Regions from separate parts of the Homo sapiens genome. Here region 2 is linked to region 1. Evidence: fine-mapped expression QTL. A gene starts in region 1. The other region holds a variant in brackets. All regions are shown on one strand. Distances are between the middles of the regions.

Region 1 (8,751 bases):
GTGAAACCCCGTCTCTACTAAAAATATTAAAATTAGCCAGGGATGGTGGTGTGCGCCTGTAATGCCAGCAACTGGGGAGGCTGAGGCAGGAGAATCACTTGAACCTGGGAGGTGGAGGCTGCAGTGAGCCGAGATAGCCCCACCGCACTCCAGCCTGGACAACAGAGCAAGACTCCATCTCAAAAACAAAAAACAAAAAAAAAAGGGAGCCTGTCTAGGGGCTAGGGGAGGGATAGCATTAGGAGAAATACTTAATGTAGGTGACGGGTTGATGGGTGCAGCAAATCACGATGGCACATGTATACCTATATAACAAAACTGCACGTTCTACACATGTACCCCAGAACTTACAGTATAATAAAAATAAATAAATAAATAAGAAATTCTGCTATGGGTGTTCGGAGCTGCTGAAAGAATGCAACAGGCAAGTGACAGCTTGTGCTTTAGGAAAATCACTCTGGCAGCAGTATGGAGGAGGGCTGGAATTAAAAGTACCCAAGTGATAGCAGCAGGAGGCAGACAAATCCTAGGCAGATGGGGGTGGGTCCCCAGTGAAACCTGACCTTCAAGCTGAAGACAGCTTAAAGCCTAGCTACATGTCCTGGATAAATCTATGGACCAGATCGAGAACCTCTCTTCCCATTTGGTGCACTTTCCTCTGATTGATCCCCACCCTTCACCTATTTTACATATACCCACCCTTCTCTAATTTGTTTTTTCACACTGTTGTGCCCACCTTTGAGTGGTGCCTTTGTTTTAGCCTATTTTGCATACTCACAAACCAATCAGCATGCACTTCCCCATTCTGAGCCCATAAAAGCCCCAGACCCAGCCATGCCAGAAGAGAGGCCAAACTACTTTGGGTGGGGGACCACCCTTGCGTCCCCTCTTGGCTGAGAATGAAAGGAGTTAGCCAGCTTGCTTTAGGCAGACAGTAAGGGAAGCGTCCCTGAAGAACCTACGACGTGCCCCAAAAGTGCTTACACCAGATGTTTTGTGCACATAAGGGAATTTGCACAGGGGGCTTGCCTAAACATGCCCACAATAGAAAATTCCATTCCCTAACACATGTGCAGTAAGGGAAATAACCAATATGGAGTAGCTCAGACTAAGGGCCCACGAGCACACTGGAAGGATGGGGTGGAGCCTCCAGAAATTTGCACCTTAAGCCCAGGTATTCAACTGTAAAGGGGGCAACCAGCAACCTGCTTTCAGGACCCCTTTCTTTACTGGGAGCTTTCCTTTCACTAAATAAATTCTACTCCACTCACTCTCCGGGGTCCACACACCTAATTCTTACTGATTGTGAGACAAAAACTCAGACCTAGCTGAGCTAAGAGCAAAAATCCTGCATCAAGAGCTGTTTTGTTGCTCAATAAAACTCTTCTCTGTCCTCCTCACCCTCCGATTGTTAGTGTAATCTCATTCTTGGACACAGGACAAGAGCTCAGGATGCCACCAAACATGGGTAGGAAGAAGAGAGTAACACGGTAGCTCTCTGCCCCACCAGCAGCGCCTGGTAGCCACCCTATGCAACAAGAAGCAGGGCGGGGGGCCAGGCCAGCCCCAGGGCCATGGGCGGGAGTGGGGTAACAGGACTGATAGGGCTGTTAACATGCCCCTGTTCGTCAGGCTGCAGAGGGCAGATCTAAAAGAGCTGTTAGCATGCTGTAACACCCACCTCTGGGGCTTCTGGGTTGCCTGACCCATTTGGTTACCACCACCTTCCCCTAGTCTGGACTCCAGAGCCCACTGTGGGAGTCACTTGTGACATGCCTGGTCCAGCCGCAAGCGGTGCACGGAGCCAGCTCCTGTGCCGGCACTTGGAGCAACCAGCTGGATACCACACAACTCTGCACTCACCAGCTCAGACACCCTCTCCTGCCAGGGGCTGAGCCCACAGTCAGGTGGCCACAGGATCCACACCTGCGTGCAAGCCAGGAGTGGCCCAGTGGGCCAGTTGTGCAGGGCACCTCCTGTGGCAAGCCCAGCCCGAGCAAGGCCTGGGTAGGTCTCCAGCTGCGGAGGTCTCCAGTGGCAAAGCAACGTCAAAAAAAAAAAATCCTGTGTCACAAGTAAGGCAGAAATTAAGAGACTACTTAATAATGTGATAAAAAATGGTGAGGCCCTAAATTACTTAGGTGAAATGAAGATGAGATGGATAAGAGTCTAAAGGACTTGGTTGTGGGTGAGGAACAGCAAGGCATCCAGGATGACTCTCCCTTGGTGACGACTTGGTGGTGAAATAAAGGCCACAAGAAAGAAGACAAACAAGTGGGGGCAAAGAGGAAAGAGAAATGAGAGAGTTGATGAATTCAATTCAGAAATGATTTGAATTTCATTTAAGCCAAAGAAAACCCAGTTATCTTTTCTGGGTTCCAGTTTTCTCAGTGACAGCTGCATTCATGAATTACCAAATTAACTATTGTAGCACTCTCTAAAAATATACAAAGCACTCTACCGTATGCTGTAAATAAGTCATGAAAAATCAGCAAAAGCTCGAGCCCTGAAGGAAATTCAGCAGGGTTAAAAAGAGATATGGCCAATGTTTACTAAACACTTAAACTGTGACCCAACACACTCACCCAGTACTGTAAGTACTCACTTAATGTCATCAACAGATTTTTGGAAACTGACTGTAAGCAAAATGACATATAACAAAACCATTTTTACCATAGGCCAATTGATATAAACAAAAGTTAAGTTCCTATAACATATTTCTGGTCACAAAAACATCACCAAACTCCTAAATACAAACCAAAACACTTCTAATATTAAACATTGAAATAAATGGGAGCTATACATACATTTAAGGAAGATTAATAAAAACAAGTAAGATAGTTATTTACCTAATTATTCCAGTTCAGGGTCGAGGGTGGCTGAAGCCTATCCCCTCAGCTCAGGGTGCAAGGTGGGAACCAACCCTTGGACACGACGACATTCCATCGCAGGGAGCACTCACACTCACACTCAGACAGGAAACACAGACAAGGCCAATTCATCCAGCCTGCACTGAGATGTGGGAGGCAGTACCCTGGGGTACCTGGTGAAAACCCATGCAGACGTGGGGAGAAGGGGCAAGATCCACACAAACAGTAGCCCCGGTAGGAAATTATTATTTTTTCTCATCAAGTTATACAAAATGACACTGAACGAAAAAATGCGATTCAAGGACCTGCTGTACTGTACTTTTTGCTCTGCCAGTCAGGTGCGATCGCTGGCTTTCTTTGAGCACCTATGAACAAGAGGTAGCATGCCCAAGTCCACGTGGGAGATACAGCGGCCCCACCCTTAAGGGACTTAGAGCATGGCGGTGGGACACATGTGGTGCAAGCTTGCTGAAAGTTTAGTGTGCTGGGAACTTTGAACATACAGGCAGGGCTAGTTAACAAAGTATATCTTTTACTTAGAGACATCGACGAGGAATATCTTAGGCCGTCCAATAAGAATGTAAGCATTTCATATTTTATTCCCTATAAAGAAAAAAGAATGGAGGCGAGAGGAAATGAAATGAAGCAATTATCGCAAAACCAGTCAGTGTCCCCGCAGGCCACCCAAGGACAAGCCTCCGGGAAAGAGTAACTCAATCCCAGTTTGGAGGGTGAAACTAAGAGTGAATGGGAAGCCAGCATCTTCCTAATACAAAAGCACAGTTTACCGTCCCCCTCAGCCAACATGCGGCTGAAGGGAAAGCCGCGGGGCGTACCTTTAGCACGGGACGCTGCTTTGGGGGGATCGCCCTCGACACAGCGCCCCTCCCGGCACCTGGCCAGAACCTCCCAGGGCGAAGGTCGGGGCCGAGAAGCTTGTGAGTACCGGGGCAGTGAGGGAGGGATCCCTAAGTGCAGGGCGCACACACGGGGCGGAGACCTGGAGGCGGCAGCACCGCGCCCCCAGGGCTCTGCCCAGCTAGCCACTCGCAGCACAGAGAAGCGCGCCCGCAAGACAGCGCAGCCTCCGCGGGCCGGAGGAGGCGGGGCCGCGGCAGGCAGAGGCAGGGCCGGGCAAGCCCTCGCTCCCCGCCGCCTGACGGGAATTGTAGTTCCTGGGAGAAGCCGGGCTGCCTCACGAGGCACTAGGAACTACATTTCCCGGTGAGAGAGCGGCTCCGGCCGGCCGCGCGGTACCGGAGCGTCGCACTGTCAGCGGCCAGAGAGCCTGGGGCAGATCGAAAAGGGAGTGCTTCTTCCCTTCTCTCCGCGCTCTGGCGGTGCAAGCGGCTCTGCTTTCCCTCGCCCCGCCGTCGGGTGCTCCCTGCCCGCCTCCCCGTGTCAGCTTTCCCTGGGCCCCGCCGGGAAAGTCTGGGCCTCGAAATTCGAAGGCAGCGGCGGCTGCCCAGCACGGGAGTGTGGGGCGCGCCACTCGGCGGCCCAGCCTACCCAGGGCCCGGCCCGCGCCTCCATGGGCCCGACCCGGAAGCCCAACGTGTGCAGCCGGCTGAGTCGCCGGGCGCTGGGCTGCTTCTCGCGCGACGCAGGCGTGGTGCAGAGGACCAACCTGGGCATCCTGCGGGCGCTGGTGTGCCAGGTGACCGCCAGCCGGCCGGGGCGGGACGGAGGGCCGCGGGCGCGCGGCGGCCGAGCCTCCTGCGGGGATGCGGTTTTAACGCGCTGGGGCCTCCCTTTATAGGGTCACATGTGATGGGGAGGAGGATACAAGCCCGGAATCTGGGATAGGTGGTAATAGGGCCACCAGCTGCTTTTAGTTTTACGCTTCTTATGTCTTACCTGGAAACAATTATTCTAAAAGTTGGTCACCTCATTAAGCCAAAACATGAGGGCAGAGTGGAGGAAGGATGCAAAAAGTTTTAAAATAATATAGGTGACATTATGTTGCTTTGAAAATTTAAAATCTAACTTAAAGCCTAAGAGTTCTTTCCTGAACGGAAATTCTTTATGTCTTTTAGGAAAGTACTAAATTTAAGAATGTCTGGACAACTCATTCCAGGTCACCTATAGCCTATGAGAGAGGAAGAATATATTTTGACAATTATCGGCGCTGTGTCAGCAGGTAACTTTTTATTGATAATTTTGCTGTAATTCACCTCACTGTTGATCTTAACTATAATTTGTATAGAACCACATGCCTACATTAGTGCCTAGTGAAATAGAATGAAAAAAATGGGTCCGAAATAAGACTAGGCAGTAAAAAATGCATGTAATTTTAAAATCTTGTTAAATCTAAAGTTGCAGGTGTCATTTTTGTAAATACCAACTTAAAGCAAAACTACAGTGCAGGCAAAACCACAGATTGTTCAGAGTACTGTTTAGTGTTTAGTCTACTTATACCACAGTCAAGAAATCCAGTTGCCAATCAAATAATTAGATGCTGCTTTGGAGAATTGATGGATTGTGTTTTGGAAGTACTTGCCTTTTTTTTTTTTTTTTAGAGAAATTTTTTCAAACAAAAGCCTAGTATTTAGAGATCCAAAATGTTTAACAGTCAGCCTCATCCACAACTGTCCAACATGAGGGGGGAAGGAAAGCCACAATGCATCCCCATATACTCATTACCCAGATTCAAAAACTATCAAGATTTGCCACATTTGCTTTATCTAACCCACTTTTCCTTTTGCATGACCTCTTTTAAAGCATATTCTAAACATACATCAGTTTGCATTTTTAAAAAAATGAGCTTTTTTTATAGGCTTTATTAGGATATAATTCACATACCATATATTTACCCATTTAAAGTGTACAGTTCAATAATATTTAATGCATTCACAGATACATGTAATCACTACCACAGTTAATTTTAGAGCATTTTCATCACTTCAAAACAGAACCATGTACCTTTAAGCAGTCACCTCAGTACCACCATTACCCTCAGCCCTAAGCAACCACTAGTCTGTTTTCTGTCTGTAGATTCACCTATTCTGTACTTTTCATATAAATGGAATCATATAATATATGGTCTTTTGTAACTGGCTTTTTCACTTTGCGTGTTTTCAAGGTTCATCCATGTTGTCACATGCATCAGAATTCCTTTATAAAGTTGAATAATATTGCATTGTATCAATTACCACATTTTACGTATCCGTTTATCAGTTGTTAGACATTGGTGTTTCTACCTTTTAGCTATTATAAATAATGCTGCTATAAACATTTCCATGTAAGTTTTTATGTGGGCATTTATTTTCACTTCTCCTAGATTATACCTAGGAATGGAATTGGTAGGTCATAAGATTATACTGTAACTGCGTTTAATAGTTAGAAGAACTGCCATACACTTTTCTAAAGTGGTAGTACCATTTTATGTTCCCATAAGCAGTATATGAGGGTTCTGATTTTTCCACATTCTTGTCAACACTTGATGTGTGACTCACAGCATCTCACTGTGGTTTTGATTCCATTTTCCTGATGACTAGTGATGTCAGGCATCTTTTCTTGTGCATATTAGCCATTTGTATGTTATTCTTTGGAGAAATGTTTGGTTAGATATTTTGCCCACTTGTAAATTTTTTTTTTTTTTTTTACAAAAATCCTTACATATTTTAGATACAAGTCCCTTATCAGATATATGATTTCAAATACTTTCTCCCATTGTGTAGATTGTCTTTTTACTTTCCTGATGTTATTGTTTGAAACAGAGAGGTTAATTTTTTTTTTTTTTTTTGAGACAGAGTTTTGCTCTTGTTGCCCAGGCTGGAGTGCAATGGCGTGATCTCGGCTCACTGCAGTCTCCACCTTCCGGGTTCAGGTGATTCTCCTGCCTCAGCCTCCCGAGTAGCTGGGACTACAGGCATGCGCCACCACGCCTGGCTAATTTTGTATTTTTGGTAGAGACCGGGTTTCTCCATGTTGGTCAGGCTGGTCTCGAACGCCCAGCTTCAGGTGATCCGGCCACCTCGGCCTCCCAAAGTGCTGGGATTACAGGCATGAGCCACCGCGTCCAGCCACAGAGAGGTTAATTTTGATGAAGTCCAATTTATCTAAATTTTTTTCATTACTCATGCTTTTGGTGCCATATCTAAGAATCCATTGCAAAATTTGAGGTCATTAAGATTTGCTCCTAGGTTTTTTTCTAAAGGGTTTATAGTTTTAGCTCATATTTAGGTGGTTGATCCACTTTGAGTTAATTTTAGTATAGGGTATAAGGTAGGTATCCAACTCCATTTTTTTTAACATGCAGCTATACATTTGTCCTAGCACCATTTATTAGAAAGACTTTTCTTTCTTCATTGCAAGGCCTTGCCACCCTTGTCAAAAATCAATTGACCATAGACACTTTTGGATTTATTTCCGGACGTTCAAGTCTGTTCCACTGATCTGTATGTCTGTCCTTATGTCAATACCACATTGTCTTGATCACTGCTGCTGTGTTATTTCTTCTTTAAATGCTTGGTGGAATTAACCATTGAAAGCATCTGGGCTTGGCACTTTCTGTTTTGGTAGGTTGTTCATTATTGATTACATTTCTTTAATAGATACAGACTTATTCAAGTTATCTAATTCTCCTTGGGTAAATTTTGATAGATGGTGTCTTTCAAGGAATTCATCTAAGTTATCCAAACTTGTGAGCCTAGACTTATTCATAATATTTCTTTATTATTGTTTTAACGTCCATGAGATCGGTAGTGATAGCCACTCTTTAATTTCTCATATTAGTAATCAATTTTGTTGACCTTTTCAAAAAAACAGCTTTTGGTTTTGTTGATTTTCTCTATTGATTTTTGGTTTTCAATTTTACTACTTTCTGAGCTAATTTTTGTTATTTCTTTGCTTACTTTGGATTTAATTTGCTCTTCTTTTACTAGTTTCCTAAGGTAGAAACTTAGATTACGATTTGAAGTCTTTCTCCTTTTCTGCATATGCACTTACTGCTATACCTTTTCCTCTAAGCATTGTTTTTGTTGCATCCCACAAATGTTGATACGTTGTATGTGCATTTTCATTTAGTTCAGAATATTTTTAAATTTCTCCTGGGACTTCTTTGACCCATGTGTTATTTAGATGTGTGTTGTTCACTCTCCAAATATATTGGGATTTTCCAGTTATCATTGTTTTATTGATTTGTGGTTTAATACCACTATGACCCAAGAGCATACTTTATATTAGTTCTAGTCTTTTAAATTTGTTAAGGTGTCTTTTATGGCTCAGAATGTGGTCTACCTTGGTGAACGTTTCGTGTAAGCTTGAGAAGAATGTGTATTCTGCTGTCGTTGGATGAGATATTCTGTTTGATCCAGTTGACTGATGGTACCTTTCAGTTTAAGTATATGCATAATTACTAACTTTCTGCCAGCTGGATGTGTTAATTACTGATGGGTATTGAAATCTCTATAATAGTGAGTGGATTTATCTATTTCTCCTTGCATTTCTATCCGTGTTTGCCACATTGTGTTTTGATACTCTGTTGTTAGATGCATATGTATTAAATATTGTTATGCCTTCTTGGAGAATTGACACCTTTTTCATTATCTTATGCCCACTTAATCCCTGGTAATGTTCCTTGCCAAATTCGACTTTGTCTGAAATTAGTATAGCTACTCCAGCTTTCTTTTGTTTAGTGTTTACACATTGTATCTTTTGCCATTCCTTTACTTTTAATCTATCTGTGCCTTTTTTTTTCCCCCCCAAAGTCAGGGTCTGGCTGTGTCTCCCAGGCTGGAGTGCAGTGGCACAATCATAGCTCACTGTAACACCAAACTCCTGGACTGAAGCAATCCGACCATCTCAGCCTCCCAAGTAGCTAGGACTATAGGCATGTGGCTATTTTTAAAACAATTTTTTTAGAGATAGGGGTCTCAGT
Region 2 (8,751 bases), 210 kb after region 1:
TCATTTTTTATGGCTGCATAGTATTCCATGGTATATATGTGCTACCTTTTCTTAATCCAGTCTATCATTGTTAGAGATTTGGGTTGGTTCCAAGTCTTTGTTATTGTGAATAGTGCTGCTATAAACATACGTGTGCATGTGTCTTTATAGCAGCATGATTTATAATCCTTTGGGTATATACCCAGTAATGGGATGGCTGGGTCAAATGGTATTTCTAGTTCTAGATCCCTGAGGAATCACCACACTGACTTCCACAATGGTTGAACTAGTTTACAGTCCCACCAACAGTGTAAAAGTGTTCCTATTTCTTCACATCCTCCCAGCACCTGTTGTTTCCTGACATTTTAATGATCGCCATTCTAACTGGTGTGAGATGGTGTCTCATTGTGGTTTTGATTTGCATTTCTCTGATGGCCAGTGATGATGAGCATTTTTTCATGTGTCTTTTGGCTGCATAAATGTCTTCTTTTGAAAAGTGTCTGTTCATATCCTTCGCCCACTTGTTGATGGGGTTGTTTTTTTCTTGTAAATTTGTTTGAGTTCATTGTAGATTCTGGATATTAGCCCTTTGTCAGATGAGTAGATTGCAAAAATTTTCTCCAATTCTGTAGGTTGCCTGTTCACTCTGATGGTAGTTTCTTTTGCTGTGCAGAAGCTCTTTAGTTTAATTAGATCCCATTTGTCAATTTTGGCTTTTGTTGCCATTGCTTTTTGTGTTTTAGACATGAAGTCCTTGCCCATGCCTATGTCCTGAATGGTATTGCCTAGGTTTTCTTCTAGGGTTTTTATGGTTTTAGATCTAACATGTAAGTCTTTAATCCATCTTGAATTAATTTTTATATAAGGTGTAAGGAAGGGATCCAGGTTCAGCTTTCTACCTATGGCTAGCCAGTTTTCCCAGCACCATTTATTAAATAGGGAATCCTTTCCCCATTGCTTGTTCTTCTCAGGTTTGTCAAAGATCAGATAGTTGTAGATATGTGGCATTATTTCTGAGGGCTCTGTTCTGTTCCATTGGTCTATATCTCTGTTTTGGTACCAGTACCATGCTGTTTTGGTTACTGTAGCCTTATAGTATAGTTTGAAGTCAGGTAGTGTGATGCCTCCAGCTTTGTTCTTTTTGCTTAGGATTGACTTGGCAATGCGGGCTCTTTTTTGGTTCCACATGAACTTTAAAGTAGTTTTTTCCAATTCTGTGAAGAAAGTCATTGGTAGCTTGATGGGGATGGCATTGAATCTATAAATTACCTTGGGCAGTATGGCCATTTTCACGACATTGATTCTTCCTACCCATGAGCATGGAATGTTCTTCCATTTGTTTGTATCCGCTTTTATTTCCTTGAGCAGTGGTTTGTAGTTCTCCTTGAAGAGGTCCTTCACATCCCGTGTAAGTTGGATTCCTAAGTATTTTATTCTCTTTGAAGCAATTGTGAATGGGAGTTCACTCATGATTTGGCTGTCTGTTTGTCTGTCATTGGTGTATAAGAATGCTTGTGATTTTTGTACATTGATTTTGTGTCTTGAGACTTTGCTGAAGTTGCTTATCAGCTTAAGGAGATTTTGGGCTGAGACAATGGGTTTTCTAGATATACAATCATGTCGTCTACAAACAGGGACAATTTGACTTCCTCTTTTCCTAATTGAATACCCTTTATTTCCTTCTCCTGCCTAATTGCCCTGGCCAGAACTTCCAATACTATGTTGAATAGAGTGGTGAGAGAGGGCATCCCTGTCTTGTGCCAGTTTTCAAAGGGAATGCTTCCAGTTTTTGCCCATTCAGTATGATATTGGCTGTGGGTTTGTCATAGACAGCTCTTATTATTTTGAGATACGTCCCATCAATACCTAATTTATTGAGAGTTTTTAGCATGAAGCGTTGTTGAATTTTGTCCAAGGCCTTTTCTGCATCTATTGAGATAATATGTGGTTTTTGTCTTTGGTTCTGTTTATATGCTGGATTACATTTATTTATTTGCGTATGTTGAACCTGCCTTGCATCCCAGGGATGAAGCCAACTTGGCCGTGGTGGATAAGCTTTTTGATGTGCTGCTGTATTCGGTTTGCCAGTATTTTATTGAGTATTTTTACGTCAATGTTCATCAGAGATATTGGTCTAAATTCTCTTTTTTGGTTGTGTCTCTGACAGGCTTTGTTATCAGGATGATGCTGGCCTCATAAAATGAATCAGGGAGGATTCCTTCTTTTTCTGTTGATTGGGATAGTTTCAGAAGGAATGGTACCAGCTCCTCCTTGTACCTCTGGTAGAATTCGGTTGTGAATCCATCTGGTCCTGGACTTTTTTTGGTTGGTAAGCTATTAATTATTGCCTCAATTTCCGAGCCTGTTATTGTTCTATTCAGAGATTCAACTTCTTCCTGGTTTAGTCTTGGGAGGGTGTATGCATCAAGGAATTTATCCATTTCTTCTAGATTTTCTAGTTTATTTGCATAGAGGTGTTTATAGTATTCTCTGATGGTAGTTTGTATTTCTGTGGGATTGGTGGTGATATCCCCTTTACCATTTTTTATTGCATCTGTTTGATTCTTCTCTCTTTTCTTCTTTATTAGTCTTGCTAGCAGTCTATCAATTTTGTTGATCTTTTCAAAAAGCCAGCTCTTGGATTCATTGATTTTTTGAAGGGTTTTTTGTGTCTCTATCTCCTTCAGTTCTGCTCTGATCTTAGTTATTTCTTGCCTTCTGCTAGCTTTTGCATGTGTTTGCTCTTGCTTCTCTAGTTCTTTTAATTGTGATGTTAGAGTGTCAATTTTAGATCTTTCCTGCTTTATCTTGTGGGCATTTAGTGCTATAAATTTCCCTCTACACACTGCTTTGAATGTGTCCCAGAGATTCTGGTATGTTGTGTTTTTGTTCTCGTTGGTTTCAAAGAGCATCTTTATTTCTGCCTTCATTTCATTACGTACCCAGTAGTCATTCAGGAACAGGTTGTTCAGTTTCCATGCAGTTGAGCGGTTTTGAGTGAGTTTCTTAATCCTGAGTTCTAGTTTGATTGCACTGTGGTCTGAGAGACAGTTTGTTATAATTTCTGTTCTTTTGCATTTGCTGAGGAGTGCTTTACTTCCAACTATGTGGTCAATTTTGTGAATAGGTGTAGTGTGGTGCTGAAAAGAATGTATATTTTGTTGATTTGGGGTGGAGAGTTCTGTAGATGTCTATTAGGTCTGCTTGGTGCAGACCTGAGTTCAATTCCTGGATATCGTTGTTAACTTTCTGTCTCATTGATCTGTCTAATGTTGACAGTGGGGTGTTAAAGTCTCCCATTATTATTGTGTGGGAGTCTAAGTCTCTTTGTAGGTCTCTAAGGACTTCTTTATAAATCTGGGTGCTCCTGTATTGGGTGCATATATATTTAGGATAGTTAGCTCTTCTTGTTGAATTGATCCCTTTACCATTATGTAATGGCCTTCTTTGTCTCTTTTGATCTTTGTTGGTTTAAAGTCTGTTTTATCTGAGACTAGGATTGCAACCCCTGCCTTTTTTTGTTTTCCATTTGCTTGGTAGATCTTCCTCCATCCCTTTATTTTGAGCCTAGGTGTGTCTCTGCACCTGAGATCGGTTTCCTGATACAGCACATTGATGGGTCTTGACTCTGTATCCAATTTGCCAGTCTGTGTCTTTTAATTGGAGCACTTAGCCTATTTACATTTAAGGTTAATATTGTTATGTGTGAATTTGATCCTGTCATTATGATGTTAGCTGGTTATTTTGCTCATTAGTTGATGCAGTTTCTTCCTAGCCTCGATGGTCTTTACAATTTGGCATGTTTTTGCAGTGGCTGGTACTGGTTGTTCCTTCCCATGTTTAGTGCTTCCTTCAGGAGCTCTTGTAAGGCAGGCCTGGTGGTGACAAAATCTCTCAGCATTTGCTTGTCTGTAAAGCATTTTATTTCTCCTTCACTTATGAAGCTT[A/G]GTTTGGCTGGATATGAAATTCTGGGTTGAAAATTCTTTTCTTTAAGAATGTTGAATATTGGCCCCAACTCTCTTCTGGCTTATAGAGTTTCTGCCAAGAGATCAGCTGTTAATCTGATGGGCTTCCCTTTGTGGGTAACCCGACCTTTCTCTCTGGCTGCCCTTAACATTTTTTCCTTCATTTAAACTTTGGTGAATCTGACAATTATGTGTCTTGGAGTTGCTCTTCTCCAGGAGTATCTTTGTGGCGTTCTCTGTATTTCCTGAATCTGAATATTGGCCTGCCTTGCTAGATTGGGGAAGTTCTCCTGGATAATATCCTGCAGAGTGTTTTCCAACTTGGTTCCATTCTCCCCGTCACTTTCAGGTACACCAATTAGACAAAGATTTGGTCGTTTCACATAGTCCCATTATTTCTTGGGGGCTTTGTTCGTTTCTTTTTATTCTTTTTTCTCTAAACTTCTCTTCTCGCTTCATTTCATTCATTTGATCTTCCATCACTGATACCCTTTCTTCCAGTTGATGGAATCGGCTACTGAGGCTTGTGCATTCATCATGTAGTTCTCGTGCCATGGTTTTCAGCTCCATCAGGTCCTTTAAGGACTTCCCTGCATTGGTTATTCTAGTTAGCCATTCGTCTAATCTTTTTTCAAGGTTTTTAACTTCTTTGCAATGGGTTCGAACTTCCTCCTTTAGCTTGGAGTAGTTTGATCGTCTGAAGCCTTCTTCTCTCAACTCGTCAAAGTCATTCTCTGTCCAGCTTTGTTCTGTTGCTGGTGAGGAGCTGCATTCCTTTGGAGGAAGAGAGGCGCTCTGCTTTTTAGAATTTTCAGTTTTTCTGCTCTGTTTTTTCCCCATCTTTGTGGTTTTATCTACCTTTGGTCCTTGATGATGGTGACGTACAGATGGGGTTTTTGTGTGGATGTCCTTTCTGTTAGTTTTCCTTCTAACAGTCAGGACCCTCAGTTGCAGGTCTGTGGAGTTTGCTGGAGGTCCACTCCAGATCCTGTTTGTCTGGGTATCAGCAGCAGAGGCTGCAGAACAGTGGATATTGGTGAACAGCAAATGTTGCTGCCTGATCGTTCCTCTGAAAGCTTCATCTCAGAGGGGTACCTGGCCATGTGAGCTGTCATTCTGCCCCTACTGGGTGTGCCTCCCAGTTAGGCTACTCAGGGGTCAGGGACCCATTTGAGGAGGCAGTCTGTCCATTCTCAGATCTCAAGCTGCATGGTGGGAGAACCACTACTCTCTTCAAAGCTGTCAGACAAGGACATTTAAGTCTGCAGAGGTTTCTGCTACCTTTTGTTTGGCTATGACCTGACCCCAGAGGTGGAGTCTATAGAGGCAGGCAGGCTTCCTTGAGCTGCAGTGGGCTCCACCCAGTTCAAGCTTCCTGGCTGCTTTGTTTACCTACTCAAGCCTCAGCAATGGTGGGTGCCCCTCCCCCAGCCTCGCTGCCGCCTTGCAGTTTGATCTCAGACTGCTGTGCTAGCAATGAGTGAGGCTCCATGGGTATAGGACCCTCCGAGCCAGGCGCAGGATACAATCTCGTGGTGTGCCATTTGCTAAGACTATTGGAAAAGCGCAGTATTAGGGTGGGAGTGACCCAATTTTCCAGGTGCCGTCTGTCACCCCTTTCCTTGGCAAGGAAAGGGAGCTCCCTGACCCCTTGCACTTCCCGGGTGAGGCAAGGCCTCGCCCTGCTTCAGCTCACACTTGGTGCACTGCACCCACTGTCCTGCACCCACTGTCTGACAGTCCCCAGTGAGATGAACCTGGTACCTCAGTTGGAAATGCAGAAATCATTCGTCTTCTGCATCGCTCACACTGGGAGGTGTAGACTGGAGCTGTTCCTATTCGGCCATTTTGGCTCCACCCCTCGATTTTTTTATTTTTCTGTTTCTTTTTTTTTTTTTTTTTTTTGAGACAGAGTCTCACTCTGCCACCCAGGCTGGAATGCAGTGGCACCATCTCGGCTCACTGCAAGCCCCGCCTCCTGGATTCATGCCATTCTCCTGCCTCAGCCTCCCAAGTAGCTGGGACTACAGGTGCCCACCACCACACCTGGCTTATATTTTGTATTTTTTTGTAAAGACAGGGTTTCACCATGATAGCCAGGATGGTCTCGATCTCCTGACCTCGTGATCCGCCCACCTCAGCCTCCCAAAGTGCTGGGATTACAGGCGTGAGCCACCGGGCCCAGCCTATTTTTCTATTTCTGTGAAGAATGTCATGATATTTTGGTAGGGATTGCATTGAATCTGTAGATTGCTTCGAGGAGTAGGAACATTTTAGCAATATTGATCCTTCCAAACCGTTTTCATTTTTTTGTGTTCTCTTCAATTTATTGCATTAATGTGTTATGGTTTTCATGGTACAAATCTTTCACTTCTTTGGTGAAGTTCATTTACAGGTATTTTATTTTATTTGTATATATTGTAAATGAGATTATTTTCTTGATATCTTTTTCATATTGTTTGCTAATGGCATATGGAAAATGCTACTGATTTTTGTATGTTGATTTTGTGTACTGCAACTTTACTGAATTTGTTTATCAGTTCTAATAGTTTTTTTGGCAGAACCTTTAGGTTTTTCCAAATATAAGCTTATATCATCTGCAAACAAGGATAATTTGACTTCTTCCTTTTCAGTTTGGATGTTCTTTATTTCTTTCTCTTGTCTGATTGCTGTAGCAAGGACTTCCATTACTATGCTGAATAACAGTGGTGACAGTGGGCATCTTTGTTGTGTCCCAGATCTTACAGGAAAGACTTTCAGCTTTTGCCCATTCAGTATGATACTAGCTGTGGATCTACCGTATATGGCCTTTTTGTGTTGTGGTGTGTTCCTTCTATACTCAAGTTTTTGAGGGTTTTTATCATGAAGGGATATTGAATTTGATCAAATGCTTTTTCAGCATCAATTGAAATGATTATATGGTTTTTGTCCTTCATTCTGGACATATGATTTATCAGGTTGATTGATTATATATGTTAACCATCCTTGCATTGCTGGGATAAATCCCACTTGGTCATGATGAATGATGTTTTTAATATGCTGTTGAATTTGGTTTGCTAGTATTTTGTTGAGGATTTTTGAATCAATATTCATAAGGGATATTGGCCTGTAGTTTTTTTTTTTTTTAACCTGTCCTTGTCTGGTTTTGGTGTCAGAGTAATGCTGGCCTCATAGAATGAGTCTGGAAATGTTTTCTCCTCCTCCTCTATTTTTTGGAATAGTTTGAGTAGGACTGGTATTGGTTCTTCTCTAAATTTCTCACAATAATCAGCAGTGAAAACATGGGATCCTGGACTTTGCTTAGAGATCTTTTATTATGGCTTCAATATCATTACTCATTACTGGTCTGTTCAGGTGTTGAATTTCTTCATGGTTCAATCTTTGTAGGTTGTATGTATCTATGAGTTTATCCAGTTCTTCTAGGTTTTCTAATTTATTGGCATACAGTTACTCAAAGTAGCCTCCATTGATCCTTTGAATTTCTGCAGTATCAGTTGTAATGTCTTCTTTTTCATTTCTGATTTTATTTATTGTGTCTTCTCTCTTTTTTTCTTAATTAATCTGGCTAAAGGTTTGCCAATTTTGTTTATCTTTTCAAAAAAACAACTTTTCATTTCACTGATCTTCTGTATTATTTATTGTTTCAATTTCATTTATTTCTGCTCTGATCTTTATTATTTCTTTCCTTCTACTTATTTTGGGTTTTGTTTGCTCTTGCATTTTGAGTTCTTTAGGATGCATCAATAGGTTGTTTATTTGAAGTTTTTGTACTGTTTTGATGTAGCCACTTGCTGCTATAAGCTTGGCTCTTAGTACTGCTTTTGCTGTATCTCATAGGTTTTGGTATGTTGTGTTTCCATTATCATTTGCTTCAAGAAAATTTTAAATTTTCTTAATTTCTTCATTGACTCACTGGTCATTCAGGAGTATAGTGTTTATTTTTCATGTGTTTGAATACTTTCCAAAATTTCTCTTGTTATTGATTTCCAGTTTTATTCCATTGTGGTCAGAGAAGATGCTTGATATTATTTCAATTCTTTGAATGTTTTAAGACTTGTTTTGTAGTCTAAGATATGATCTATTCTTGAGAATGATCCACGTGCTGAGGAAAGGAGTGTATATTCTGCAGCCATTGTATGAAATGTTCTGTAATATCTGTTAGGTCCATTTGCTCTATAGTGCAGATTAAGTCCAATGTTTCTTTGTTGATTTTCTGTCTGGCAGATTTGTCCAATGCTGAAAGTAGGATGTTGTGGTCTCCAGCTCTTACTGTTTGGGGTCTATCTCTCTCTCTTTTGCTCTAATAATATTTGTTTTCTATATCTGGGTGTTCCAGTGTTGGGTGCATATATACTCACAGTTGTTATATCCTCTTGAAGAATCAATCCCTTTATCATTATATAAAGGCTTTCTTTGCCTCTTTTTATAGTTTCTGTCTTGAAGTCTATTTTGTCTGATATAAATACAGCTACCCCTGCTCTTTTTTGGTTTCCATTGGCATGGAAAATCTTTTCCATTCCTTTATTTTCAGTCTATGCCTGGCTTTTGTTTGTTTGTTTGTTTGTTTATTTTTGAGACAGGGTCTCACTCTGCCCAAGCTAGAGTACAGTGTCATGATCTCAGCTCACTGCAGCCTCCACCTCCTGGGTTCAAGCAATCCTCCCACCTCAGCCTCCTGAATAACTGGAACTATAGGCACGCACCACATGCCCAGCTAATTTTTGTATTTTTAGTGGAGATGGGGTTTCACTATGTTGCCCAGGCTGGTCACAAACTTACATCCAACGTTATTGGTAGGTAAGAACTT

The links.
Region 2: its variant is fine-mapped to the expression of METTL8 in fibroblasts (GTEx, PIP 0.95).

The regions. Positions count from the first base shown.
Region 1 is chr2:171,430,177-171,438,927 of GRCh38, forward strand. It overlaps METTL8 (methyltransferase 8, tRNA N3-cytidine), which reads right to left and starts at 3,814. Exons shown (of 10, transcript NM_001321154.2): 1 at 3,707-3,814. DCAF17 (DDB1 and CUL4 associated factor 17) reads left to right here and starts at 4,050. Exons shown (of 14, transcript NM_025000.4): 1 at 4,050-4,527; 2 at 4,907-5,010. The coding sequence starts at 4,402. RefSeq lists enhancers at 3,048-3,217, 3,195-3,755, 3,428-3,497, 4,317-4,876 and a silencer at 3,808-4,717.
Region 2 is chr2:171,641,615-171,650,365 of GRCh38, forward strand. No RefSeq gene overlaps it. Among named protein-coding and RNA genes, the nearest start is that of DYNC1I2, 41 kb to the right of the region's middle. The variant A/G (reference allele first, on the strand shown) is at 3,927.